2 linked regions of the Homo sapiens genome follow. The protein of the gene in region 2 interacts with the protein of the main gene of each other region in a pairwise test. Each region holds a gene or a part of one and is shown on either strand. Other genes may lie near its edges.

Region 1 (7,027 bases), on a different chromosome or scaffold from region 2:
GAGCTTATCCTTCTGCCTGTTTTAACACCATCGTTTTCTGAAAAGAGTGCAAAGGTAACTTCATTCTATGCAGGTACACATTCAGATGAAAAGCTAAAAGTGATCTTTTAAAACATAGTCCCATAAGTGATTATTAAAATGCTTAGAGACAAAATGTATGTTTTGTGTGTAGACTGGAAATACACATTGGATTGTAGTTTCAGATTCTGACTGTCAAAAGACCAACTTTCCATACTCCAGAGAAAATAGCCCCCAAGAGACGAGCACAAGTTTTCCCCATTGTTCAGGGCCAGATGATAAACCATGTGAGATTTCATAACTACCAGACCAGACGCTGGGTCACCATGAGTCCGGGGCGGCCTGACTCTGCCAATATCTGCACAACTGAATAAACAGGAGGAGCGAGGGAATGCCGCAGAACGTATACACCTGAAGGTAGAGATGTCGCCTGTCCCATCCTGATGTTTCCCCAGAGCCTAGCAGCCCTTGTCACACACAGCAGTTGTAAAAAATATGTGTGTGTGTGTGTGTGTAGAAATAAATGAAAGAGCTTCAGTAGACAACAAACAGGAATAGTGTGGGGGCTTTGATGACCCCATAGATGAGGGGTCGTTATTAACAGTGCCATTTTATCCCTTTGTGAGCTTAGATATCTTGGCCATAAATTTGGGCCATGCCAGTCAAAGCCAAACTTCTTGAAAGCATGATCTCCACGCCTTTGCCTCCCATTTACGCAACCTTCTGCAGCCCTCCCAGCCCCGTCACTCCAATGAATGCTCTCACCAAGGTTATTAATAGCCTCCTTTTTGAAACCCTCTCTTCTGGGCATCTCTGAAACGGCACCCACCTGGTTTCTTCCTGCCTCTCTGGCTTTTTCTTTTTTTTCCGCAGAGTTTCTCTTCAGCGGCTTGTTCTCTAAATATTCGTGTTCTTCACGAGGTTTTGTCCCTGTGTCCTCTTTCTCTTTTCGTTCCCATTCTTCCTTCAACTTCAGTTATCACAGAATGCCAGCAGTGCCCAAATCTGTACCTCTCCGGTCAGCTCCAGAGCCCTGCGTCTGACAGCACACTTGACATCTCCGTTTGCCGCACCGCAGACACTTGTGACGCCATGCTGTCTCCTCACAAAGCAGCTCCTCCTGTGTTTTCTGAAGCGAATGCTGGCACCAACCCACTGGCTGCTCAAGCCAGTAACCTGGGCATCCCTGAGACTTCCACCCCTGGTCCATTCATATAATCGCAAGCCCTGATGACTTTCTGTCCTGAGCATCCCTTGAATCCCTTGGTTAAGAGTGTGGGTACTGGAGCGAGTCTCCGGGTTCACATCCCGACTCTTCCCCTCACTAGCTCCGTAACTTTAGGGAAGTTACTTAATCCCTTTGGTCCTCAGTTTCCTCACCTGCGAAATAGAGATCTAGTGCTGGCCTCACTGCGTTGTTGAGAAGATTGAATGAGTTAATTGATGTAACTGCTTAGAACAAGGCCTATCCCTTCCAGAGGGTCGGTAAAGAGTAACTATGGGCCGGGCGCAGTAGCTTATGCCTGTAATCCCAGCACTTTGGGAGGCCAAGGTGGGCAGATCACCTGACGTCAGGAGCTCAAGATCAGTCTGGCCGATATGGTGAAACCTCGCCTCTACTAATAAAAAATTAGCCGGGTGTGGTGGCACGTGCCTGTAATCCCAGCTACTTGGGAGGCTGAAGCAGGAGAATAGCTGGAACCTGGGAGGCGGAGGTTGTGGTGAGCCGAGATAGCCCCACGGCACTCCAGCCTGGGCGACAGAGCAGGACTCCATCTCAAAAAAAAATAAAAAAGAGTAGCTATGATCCCCTCTCCCTCCCCACTGTCCTCCACCTCCTCCTCCTTTTTCTCTCCACTGTTGCTACCCGATGCTGGTTGCCATCTTATCACATCTAGATTACTATGAAATATTCCCAATGGTCTTCCCACTTCTTTGTTTTACTCTACCACCATCACCCCCACCCCATCCATTCTCATACTGCAACTGGAGGGATCTTTTTAAAATACAATTTTTTTTTTTTTAAATACAGACAGGGTCTTGCTCTGTTGCCCAGGTTAGAGTGCAGTGGCATGACCATGGCTCATTCCAGCCTCTAACTCCTGGGCTGAAGCGATCCTCCCACCTCAGCCTCTGAGTAGGTAGGACTATAGGCATGCATCACAATACCTGGCTAATTTTCAATTTTCTTTTAAATAGAAATGGTCTTGCTATATTGCCAAGGCTGATCTCAAACTCCTGGGCTCAAGTGATTCACCTCGGGAGGCGTGAGCCACTATACCCAGTGAGTTATGATCACACCACTACACTCCAGCCTGGATGGCGGAGCAAGATCTTGTCTCTAAGAAAAAGAATTAACAAATAAATAAAAACACGAATCTAATCATTTACTTCCCAGACTGGAAGCTTTCAGGAGTTTCCCATGACTCTTTGAATCATGACCTTTGAGGCCCCATGGGAGCTGGCCCCTGCCTCCCCTGCAGCCCTTCCGGGGCTGTTCCTTCCTCATCTCTGCTCCAGCTGCACTGCTTCCCTCCCGTCTGCCTCATCTGCACCTGCTCCTTCATGCCTGAAGCCTCTGCACCTGCTGTCCTCTCTGTCCCACTTCTCAGCTAGCTCACTCTGTCAAACCCAGTGTCATTGCCTAAGGAAAACCTTGCCTGACCCCTCCAGACCAGGTTATGCCCTCCCATAATAACGCTCTCAAAGAGCCGCATAGTTCTGCTTCAGAGGGCCTATCATAGTTAGGATTCACTTGCTCAAAGTCAGTCTCGCACCCTGGATTATAAGCAACACAGGCCAGGTGCGGTGGCTCACACCTATAATCCCAGCACTTCGGGAGGCTGAGGCGAGTGAATCACCTGAGGTCAGGAACTCGAGACCAGCCCGGCCAACACGATGAAACCCTGTCTCTACTAAAAATACAAAAATTAGCCAGGCGTGGTGGCAGGTGCCTGTAATCCCAGCTACTAGGGAGGCTGAGGCAAGAGAATCGCTTGAACCCGGGAGGCGGAGGTTGCAGTGAGCTGAGACTGGCCATTGCACTCCAGCCTGAGCAACAAATGCAAAACTCCGTCTCAGAAAAAAGAAAAAAAGAGCAAAGATGAGGGTCGTGTCTGCTTTGCTGCTTGCTATACTCCAGTGTCCAGCACAGTCCCTGGATGGAAATAACGGTGCAATCATTGTTGCATAAATGAATTTAAGTAACCAGGGGCCTGTAACTTTGGTCACTGCTTATTTAGCTAGGCTCTCAGGTTTTCCTTTTTGTCATGCTCTAGAACCGAATCAGGTGTCTGTCAATCTAACTCCCTCTGAGTAACCAGGACAGGATCACTGAAGTGCTTGATGAAGGTGGCTGCATTATTTATGCCTGGAACAGGAGGACTGTAAGGGCATCAACAGCAACACAAGAAGTCCCTTCAGCTTGAAAGGAGCATCTGTGCCTTTCAAACAAGGGAAATTAGATGAATACACAAATAAAAGCAATTAGATGAAAATAAATCCAAATACGGCATCACGACAAAGGACTCTAACACAGCACATTTGTTTATCTTTTCTGTGCAGGTCAGGGATTAGGAATCATGTTGCATGACGCAAGGGACAGGCAGAAGTTCTTCAGCGATGTTCAGTATCTGCGGGACATGCAGCATAAGGTGGACTCTGAGTATCAGGTAATTGCAGAAAGCAAGAATGGTCTTCTGCCTTCTCTTGCAGTATTTAGAGAGAATTCAGAATACAGCATCAACGTATGATAAGCAGTAAAAGTTTTCTAAAATCCAAACCCACCGATTAGGTATGTAACTAGCAAAAGCCACTTCACCTCTCTGTATCCTCGTCTGTAAAAAAAAAAAAAAAAACGGGGATAGCTGGGCACGGTGGCTCATGCCTGTAATCCCAGCACTTTGGGAGGCCGAGGCGGGCGGATCATGAGGTCAGGAGATCGAGACCATCCTGGCTAACACAGTGAAACCCTGTCTCTACAAAAAATACAAAAAATTAGCCAGGCGTGGTGGCACTGTAGTCCCAGCTACTCGGGAGGCTGAGGCAGGAGAATCGCTTGAACCCGGGAGGCAGAGGTTGCAGTAAGCCGAGATCGCGCCACTGCACTTTAGCCTGGGCAACACAGCGAGACTCCTCCGTCTCAAAAACAAACAAACAAAAACAAAAAAACGAGGATAATGGTTGTATCCACTTCTAGTATTATCATGAAAATGAAATGAAATAAACACTGTAAAAGTACTTCCCTCAGTTTTCGGCATGGAGCCCTTGTCCACCAGTGGCATTAGGGCTTAAATTTGACAAACCAACTGAGAAGGAAAGAAAACATGAAAGAGTTAACTGGGTCGCCCTACCATTTGTAAAATAACACGCCCTTCGTTGTCATCCCCACCAGAAGAAAGGTGGTTTGCACATTTTACAATGAGCTAACTGCTGGTCCCCCTAGTTACAGTGTTTACGTGCAAAACCAAAACACACAGGGAGCCTGAGGAATCCTGAGGTTGCAGTCACCCGGAGCTGGCATAGGACAAACTTGCCAGACTAGGTTGTGGGATCCTGGGAGCAGGTAAAAAGTGTCAGTCATCCCACCAGAGGTGGGACCTCAGCCCTTGCCAATCAGGAAGGCACGTCCTCAGCCTGGGCTGAGGATTGAAAAGCGCTCCTTCCCTGAGGAAAACACAGAACTGCTGTTATCAGGTTTTTCCCCTTCTTAGCAATTTCAAATATAACTAAAGCTCCCAGGTCACCAAGGAAACCAGACCTGTCTCAGTAACCTGATTTCACCTGTATAATACGGCTTAGCTTTAGGGCTGGAAACAGAGTCAGCAATTTCCTCCCACAACGTGCCAACCCACGTATAAGAAGACGAGAAAATCGAGGGCATTTCTGCAAAATAAATAAGAACATAAACATCCACACTGGTCGCCCTGGGAGTCTAACTGCTTTTCACAAAGATGCCTCTGCCACCCGGCTCCTGTTTGAAATTGTCTCCAGAACAGGCATGTAGGAAAAAATCAATCTTATAGTTTTATGGTCCTTGTTGAAGAAAATCACACAACTGTGTGGCTTTGAGCCGTTGCCGTTTTATTTTCTAATCTCCATTGGGCTCTTAACACTGCCTTTTCATTCATTCATTCAGCCAATATCTATTTGGTGCCTACTATGTGCTGAACAAAGCCTCTGTTCTCCTGGAATTCTTATTCTAAGATTAAGAGGGGGAAGGACTTACACAAGTAGAAATGTGTAAGGTAGTTTCAGTTATTGATAAATACAATGAGGAAAATAAAACAGGTTAAGGGGTTGGAGGCGGTGATCCCTTAGAAGCAGGGGAGGTCTCTTTGAGGAAGTGACACTTGACTGTTGAGGTGAATTATGGGAAAGATCCCCCCAGAGCTTCCCAATCGGAAGGAAAGAGACAGTGCAAAGGCCCTGAGGCAGGAACCAGCCCGGATGAAACCAAAGTTAGCCAGAGGGGCTGGAACACATGAACCCAGGGAAAGTACGGAAGTGTCACACTGGGTCTCACAGAACATAGCTTGGCATTTAGGTTTTATTCTTTTTTTTTTTTTTTTGAGACAGAGTTGTGCTCTTGTTGCCCAGGCTGGAGTGCAGTGGCACGATCTTGGCTCATCGCAACCTCTGCCTCCTGGGTTCAAGCGATTCTCCTGCCTCCGCGTCCCAAGTAGCTGGGATTCAGGCATGCGCCAACACACCTGGCTAATTTTGTATTTTTAGTAGAGACGGGGTTTCTCCATGTTGGTCAGGCTGGTCTCAAACTCCCGACCTCAGGTGATCTGCCCGCCTCGGCCTCCCAAAGTGCTGGGATCACATGCATAAGCCACTGTGTCTGGCCCAATTTTATTCTTATCACTGTGAGAATTATTGGATGGTTTAAGTGGGGGAATAGTATGATCTGATTTATGTTGTATTAAGGGTCACTCTGGCTGCGGTATATGGAAAGGACTAGAAGGGGCAAGAGAAGAAGCGGGAAAACTTGTAAGGAAACTATGATAGAAATTCAGGAGAGAGATTCTGGTGACTTGGCCCGGGGTGGTAGGAGTGGAGGTGGTGAGAAGTGGCCCGGCCCAGGAAATAGAAGCAGAACAGACATCTTGCTGATAGATGGAGAGGCGGAGTGAGGGAAAGAAAAGAATGAAGGATGACTCACGTCAACACATTTACTTGTCCATCAGCTCCCTCTGTTATCATCACGATTTTAAACCTTTTCACTCTTTTCAAACCTCCAACCTCCATAGTTTCAACAAAGAACTCCCTGCCGGGTTTCACACACTCACACAAAACAAAATGAAGACCCCAAGGCCGGCAGGTGAGAACCCACTCAGCCTCCTCCCATTCGCTCCAGGCTACACACCATCTAGTCCCCACATCTTGGAGGATGAAGTGACCCTCTTCCTGCTGGTACCCAGCCTGAGATCCTGATTTGAGGCCCTCTGCTCTCCAGCCCCTGCCATCCACAGGCCTCTCATTGGTAGCTTTGACATTTCCTTTCTTGTTGGCTCAGTCCACGAACGTGCTTAAGTCTCTCCCATCTTAAGAACAAAAGAGCAAAGCTTTCTGTAGACATCGTGTCCTTCTCTAGCTGCAGCGCTGGCTTCTTCCTGCCTCATCCCAGATGTCCCCAAACAGCCAGCTCCATTTCTGTCTCTGCTTCCTGCCCTCCCATGGATTCCCTGGCCTGCTTCAGCCCGACCATCACCTCCGCTCTCCTCTCCTGAAATTCTTCTGCTAACGTCAGTAACCAAATTCACCGGGCTCCTTCCCAGTCTTTATTTTCTGCAGTCTTAACTACCTTTGACGTTATTACTCCTTTCTTCTCAAACATGACTCTTTGGCTTTCTTTTTTTTTTTTTTTTTTAATGTTTCCCAGGCTGGTCTCGAACTCCTGGCCTCAGGTCATCCTCCTGTCTCAGCCTCCCAAAGTGCTGGGATTATAGGCATGAGCCTCCATATCCAGCCTCCTTTGGCTCTCTGACATCACACTCTCTTGATT
Region 2 (6,918 bases):
TCAGTTACCATGAGCAGTAGGTCACAACAAAAGAATGTGATTTTGTCATTCAAACGTATATGAATGTTCTATTGCTTACATTAGATTCAAAAATTCCCAGATTAAAAAAAAATTAAATAGATACACAAAAAAAGATCCCTAATCTGTGAAGTAAAGCTATAAACACCAAAGGTTATTAAATTAAAAGAAATTATATATCTTAAATATATAAACTCAATAGCTCAATAAATGTAAGTAGCCGTTCCTTATAATAGTATATCAGGAATTTTAAAACTCTTTTAAATACAAGGTATATTCCTTGAAATATCACACCTTTCTCAAACAGTGTAGGCATTAAAAAAAAAAAAAAACCACTGCAATAACATATTCAAGAAGTAGGATAGCCCACATGTATGAATCTCAGGTAACTGAAGCTTATAGTCCCTGAACAACTTTTGCCACATACACCCCAAAGTCATCTCTGACAAATTTTTCTAGGAGATTTTACTAATTTCCTTGCCTTCTTTAACACAGTAGACTCAATATAAATTAACTTCTTATTATTTTCAATATGCTCTAGCAGCTCTTCCCCAGGGAACTTCATTTAATTCTGGAAAATAAGAGAAATTCCACTAAAAATGGTAGTGGCATGTTTATTTGCATACTTATTTATATGCAGCCTGCAGACATAAAAGGATCTAAAGCGTCTACAATAAAATATGCTTCTGTGAAGTATTTTAATTATAGCTTTTTCTCTTTTAAGGTTTTTATAAAGAAAGTTCTGGATTGGTACACTTCACTCTGGGTTTCTTTGTAGTATTCTTGTACTGGGATGACTATCACCTGTGAGTAGAGCTTCAAACTCTTGACGTTATGAGTAGTGAGTTTATGGTTTTGTCACCTGGGCGACACTGCGAGACTCCGTCTTAAAAAAAAAAAGAGTGCCAGAACAGTATCAGCGACCACAGGGAGGAAGACCAATGCAGAACAGTCTTGTTTGAGGAAAAGAGAGTTTACCATGATTGTAACCTTTCTCAACTGGAGTTACCAAAATAATTAAGCCCTAATACGCTGGCGTTAATATGATAGACTTATTTCCTATGTTTGTAGGGTGGCATTGAATTATCCTTGGGAGAATTGAGAAAATAGTCTCTCAATTTTCCTGTGTACCATGGTTCTGAGAGGAAACCCTGGTTGAGAGAGTCATTTTATACTGACTTTCAGTTGATAGACAACTGTACCAGTAGCTCATTTCACTGTGCAAATGTTATGAATGCTATAATTAAGCACCCAAGAGTTGGAATCAATTCAAGTAGTTCATTCATTACCTATTAAGGAAAAGACGTCTAAGCTGTTTTTCCAACTGCAAGTGATCTAACTTTTCATAATATAAACCATACATATTTCTGAGCACATCCTAAAACGATCTAAACAGGTAAAGTTTCTTTCAGTTGAGATTTGTACTACCTTCAGAATGACATTTTTAAGTAAAATGAAGTGCAATTTTCAGCCAACTTAAAAATGCTTTGTTCCTGTCTGTTACTTAGGAAGACACATAGGGCTAATGTTTTAAGGAATCGTATTCTAGTTTAGATAAAATAAATACACGCTTTTCGACCTCAGTGTAAGTGAAAGATACTTGGTGCATGACCAGCCCTATTTTAAGGCTAATACAAAAATAGGCTCTAGATTTTTCTATTAGAACCTTTAAGGAAGGTGAAAAAAATTGATGTATTTGTCCCAAGATGATTAAGAATTTGAAACAGAAAAATAGATTATGTCATGCTTGAATATAAGTAAACTCTAATTGCTGAAATCTGTAATTAATATCTCATACATAACTTATAGAATTATAATTACATCTCCCCGAAAGAATTACCACTCTTCACAGCATTTAAGTTTTTGAATCAGTGTAAACAGTTTTAGGTCCACTTTGCAACACTCAAAAACTAACAGTTTGAAATTTGCACAACAGCCTAAAGAAAGAGGAACTGTCCTGGAATAAAAGAGAGTGGACAACTGGCAACAAAACACTCCTGAATGTGACAACGCACATTCTCCACAAAAGCTAAAACTAGAGAAATCGACACAATAACCATGTAACCCATATGCAATCTCAAAGGAACAAAAGATGAAATAAGTACTGTAATGATATGCCCCAGAAACACCGAAAAGTTTATTTCTTTGCTCTAAAATCGTGAGCTGATAGTTTTGCTCGGTACACTTGCATTGTTTCAATTAAAATGGTCAGTCCCGGGTATGAACTTCTTCGTTAGTTAGCTGAACAATGGGATCTCAAGGAACTACTGGCTTTTTATGAACGAATGCAGTGGTTTCTAGCACCTGCTTATTTTAACGTTTTGCTGTCATTTCATTAGCATCTCCCCTGCGGGCTGCGTGAACTCCGCAAATCACACATCCTACTGCCTTTCCCGGCGGCAGCCGCACTGAGTCACCGGCCCCGGACCCCGCCCTGCAGGGCATTCCAGCTGCTTCCAGCAGGACCCGTTCCGCAGGCCTGCGCCTCACTCTTGCTGCGCCAGGACTGCAGAGGGACATGGTAAAAACGGGGGCTGAAAGACCTCTCGCAACAGCCTTTTAGGACAGACTCAAAGCCTTCCTCCCTGAGTTTTATCTGTAGGACCGAAACAACAAAATCTCAGAGGAACCCACCAACCACAGCAGGCCGCAGCCGCGGCGACCCCGGCCCGCACACACTGCGCACGCGCGCACACACGCGCCCTCCGCCCGGTGGGGGTTCGCCCAGAGGTTGACAGAGGAAGGTGGGTGGGGGCCTAGAGCGGTGGGTCATGGCTGGCTGCACCCGCAAACTCACTCACCTCCGTAAACGGATCCATCGCCCCAGGCGTCGGACTACGAGACGATGGAAACGGTGGTTCAAATTCAGGAAGAGAAAAGTGAGTCTCAGCTCAGTGTGTCTCCTGGAAAAAACCAGGAGTCTGAGGCGGGGGAACTCTCCCACAACCAGCTGTCCTCTCCTCTCGGCTTCCAGTGACGGACTCGGCCTCTGCAGCCGTTCAAATTTGAATTTCAGCGCCGAGCCGCGAGCATGCGCGCTGGGCGGAGCCGGGGCGCCCTCTCCCCGCCCCTGCGCTCGGTCACGTGGCCGCGCCGGGCCGGGTGGTTCCCAGGGGCGGCCCCGCCTCCTTCCCGGCCCCCTCCCAGCCCTCGCCGCGGGGTGGAGGCGGGCAGCGGGGCGCTTCCTGCTCTCCAACGGCGTCGGGTTCCTGGCTCCACCCCCAACAACCACACATTCCCCTCAGCTTTAAGGCGATTGCTTCACACCAACCGCGTTTGGGTGTTCCCGCCTTCCTTCATTCCTAAATAAAGTATTAAGGCCGGGAGTAGTGGCGCATGCTTATAATCCCAGCATTTGGGGAGGCTGAGGCTGGAGGATCGCTTGAGCCCAGGAGGTCATGGCTGCAGTGAGCTGCGATCTCACTACTGCACTCCAGCCTGGGCGGCAGAGTGAGACCCTGCCTCAAAAAAGAAAAAAAAAGGATTAAGAGCCCTTGTGTTGGCAGGACATAATCCCAGCACTGTGGGAGGCCGAGGCGGGCAGATCACGAGGTCAGGAGTTCAAGACCAGCCTTGCCAACATGGTGAAACCCCGTCTCTACTAAAAATACAAAAAAATTAGATAGGCATGGTGGCGCGTGCCTCTAATCCCAGCTACTCGGGAGGCTGAGGCAGGAGAATTGCTTGAACTGGGACCCGGGAGGTGGAGGTTGCAGTGAGCAGAGATCACACCACTGCATTCCAGCCTGGGCTACAGAGCCAGACAAAGAGCCCTTGTGTTTCAGGTGCTGCTAGCCCGTTGGCCTTCAGTAGCTTTGTTTCCTAGGTCACACCCAACTCCTAGTCCCCAAAAGGGGGACTGCAGGCCTGGCCCTCAGAAAAGCCAGTTCCGGTGGGTCCCCGACACTCTAAGCCAATGAAATAAAGCTAAAATTAACAGACTGTGTGAAGCGTTCATGCACAATTTTTTATTTTAAATTCCATCCAACTGTGTACAGTGTTAGAGCGGGAGGAATTCTGACAAGCCCTCTATCTAGTTCAATCCTTCCTTTTACTGCCGAGAGAAGGGACACCCGAAAACGTTAAAGAAACTGGTCCAAAGAAATGAAAACCCTGTTCTCAGCTCATGACCCGTTTTCCACACTAGCTAAGGCTGTGTCTCCTGCTTATTCTTTGTAGAGTACTCCAAATTGTAAGATAGGTTACATAATTTCTGTATCAGATTCATTTCTTCTATAACAAGTCTGTGCAGGTAAAGATGACAGTTCTTGATTTGTTCATCTGAAAAGTTAAGAGTGACTGTCCATGAGCTGAACAAAACAGAACTATTCCTCCCAACTGAGTGGTTTCAATATGTTTAATAATATGTCCATCTTAGCAGTCAATCAACATTACAAAAAGAATTTACTAATATTTTTAATTTGAATTTTTGTATGATAAATTGTACGTGACTGAAATCACGGCAAGAGGTAAGGGAAATATTGCTTGGGGTCAGGGCTCCACCCAGTTAGCCAAATCGGTTAACCCATGGGTTTTTTTTTTTTTTAACCTTTGTGGGGAGTCATGGACTCCTTTGGAAATATGTTAAAACTGACCCTCTACCTAGAAAAATGACCATTTAATCATAAACTATTTAACAGGATTTTGTGAAGTTCATGGACACCAGGACAAGAACTTCTGATTTAGCCTGTTTGTATTTTAGTTTACTTATCTGTGTAACAGGAATAATCATCTGCCCTGATTTCCTCAGAGTTGTTAGGAGGGGCAGATGAAAAATGGAGAGACATAATCCAAAAATATTTCATAATAAGTAATAAGACACTGTCCGAGTGTGTAGTATATGGAATTATTAATATTTAACCCAGAATGTGTTACTTATGAACAAAGGAAAAAGATACTTCCATTTTTTTCAAGTGTGACAAGAAAGGTGTGTATGTATTTGGGGCGTGTCTGTGTGTGTATGCGTGTTTTAAACAACGTTGGAAAATGAGTCATTAGAAATTTATGTAGCCGTTGTGCCTTCTGGCTATCACTTCTATGAGCCTTAGTTTCTTTGTATCTACCTCAACTAGATTCTAGTTAAGACTAAAAGAGGTAAAGCACCTAGCATAAGATAGCTACTCACAACATTTAGTGTATCTTCCCTCACCATCCCACTATGTCTTTGGTTTCTACCTTGATAATGATGATGATAGTGATAATGGCAACCATCACAATTAAATAACTCCTAAGACTGAAACACCTACTATGTGCCAGAAACTACGGTAGATATTCAAGTCTACTCTCCTAGGGTATTACAATTGTCTCCTACTATACCTCCTTTCATTCTTAACCCCCGGTAGTTCATTCTTCAGTTTCTAGGCTAGAATGACTTTTATCTTTTTAAAAATTGTGTTATATAACAAATAAAAAAATTTGAAAACAAAAAAATTATGTTATGAAATACAATAAAAATGTGAATAATAAAACATAACCATATACCAGCCACCTAGCTTAAAAAAATACAAAACATCCCACATGTAATTGAAGTCTCCTGTGTGTCCCTTCCTATTCTCATTCATCTTCCCACTCTTCCAGGGTAAAACTATCTTGATTTGATGTTTATCATTCCCATAGAAATATGTATACTTTTATCACATCTACATATATATCCATAACAATATCTAGTGTTTTATATATAAATTTTATTTGCAGAATGTAAGTCTTTCTGCAACTTTTTCTGGCCCAATAATATCTTTATGGGATTTATCCTCACTAATAACTGTAGCTGCATTTCATTCATGTTCACTGCTAAATTTTATTATACAAATATACTTGTAATTTATGTACCCATTATCCTGTTAATGGACATTTAGCTTATTTCCAGTTTTTCATTCCAAAGACCCCATGATGCCATGACTATCCTTTATATGCACATGCAAAACTTTCTCTAGAGCAATATACCTAGGAATATTATTACCAGATATTAAAAATAAACTGCTCTTCAAAATGGTCATAACAAATGATACTCCAGTCAGTAGTATATGCCCCTGGCTGCTGCTCTAGTTCCTCCCCAATATGTGGATACATTTTAAATTTTGCCATTCTTGTTTGAGTGCCTTTCTCTTATCACTAGTGAAGGTGAACATGATTTTTTATTTATTGGACTTTCAATTTTCTTTTTCTGTGATTTTCAACTTTATATCCTTGCCCATTTTTCTGTGCAATTATTTGCCTTTTTCTTATGGATTTATAGGGTTTTTGTTGGTTGTTTACTATTTTCTGGGAAAATAAACTTGGTTGGTTTTTCGGCTTGCCAATTTTTTGGTTTGTGGCTTGTCTTTTTACTTTATGATGTTTCAGATGTACAGAAATGTTTAATATAACTAATGATACACACACACACACACACACACACATACACACATACACATACACATATACCATATATATTTTCCTTTAGGATTTGTGTTTTTTATGCCTTAAGAAATCCTTCCATACCCTGAGATAATAAAGATGTTCTGCTGTACTTTCTTCTAAATATTTTAAAGTATGGCTTTTCATGCTTTTGTCTTTAAACTATCTGGATTGATCTTGTTTTTTGTATGGATAACCAGTTGTCTTAGCAGCAGTTATTAAATTGTCCATCCTTTCTCTCATTGACCTGTAATGCCACTTTTATCATATATCAACTTTTCTTTTTTTTTTTCCCGAGACAGGGTCTCGCTCTTTCGCCAAGGCTGGAGTGCAGTGGCCTGATCTCGGCTGACTACAACCTCTGCCTCCCGGGTTCAAGCGATTCTCCTGCCTCAGCCTCCCAAGTAGCTGGGACAACAGGCATATGCCACCAAATCTGGCTAATTTTTGTGTTTTTAGTAGAGTTGGGGTTTCCCCATGTTGGCCAGGCTAGTCTCGAATTCC

The links.
Region 1: the proteins of ANLN (region 2) and MARCHF10 interact in binary tests that used the Homo sapiens proteins (3 or more experiments, as listed by UniProt).

The regions. Positions count from the first base shown.
Region 1 is NC_000017.11:62,798,308-62,805,334, reverse strand, and holds part of MARCHF10 (probable E3 ubiquitin-protein ligase MARCHF10), read left to right. Parts: intron 1-287; exon of another isoform or gene 288-435; intron 436-3,582; 5' UTR 3,583-3,599; coding exon 3,600-3,689; intron 3,690-7,027. UniProt on the Homo sapiens protein: E3 ubiquitin-protein ligase. E3 ubiquitin ligases accept ubiquitin from an E2 ubiquitin-conjugating enzyme in the form of a thioester and then directly transfer the ubiquitin to targeted substrates.
Region 2 is NC_000007.14:36,385,946-36,392,863, reverse strand, and holds the start of ANLN (anillin), read right to left. Parts: upstream 3,003-6,918; 5' UTR 2,898-3,002; coding exon of another isoform or gene 2,838-2,897; coding exon 2,820-2,837; coding exon of another isoform or gene 2,790-2,819; exon of another isoform or gene 2,507-2,789; intron 1-2,506. UniProt on the Homo sapiens protein: Required for cytokinesis. Essential for the structural integrity of the cleavage furrow and for completion of cleavage furrow ingression. Plays a role in bleb assembly during metaphase and anaphase of mitosis.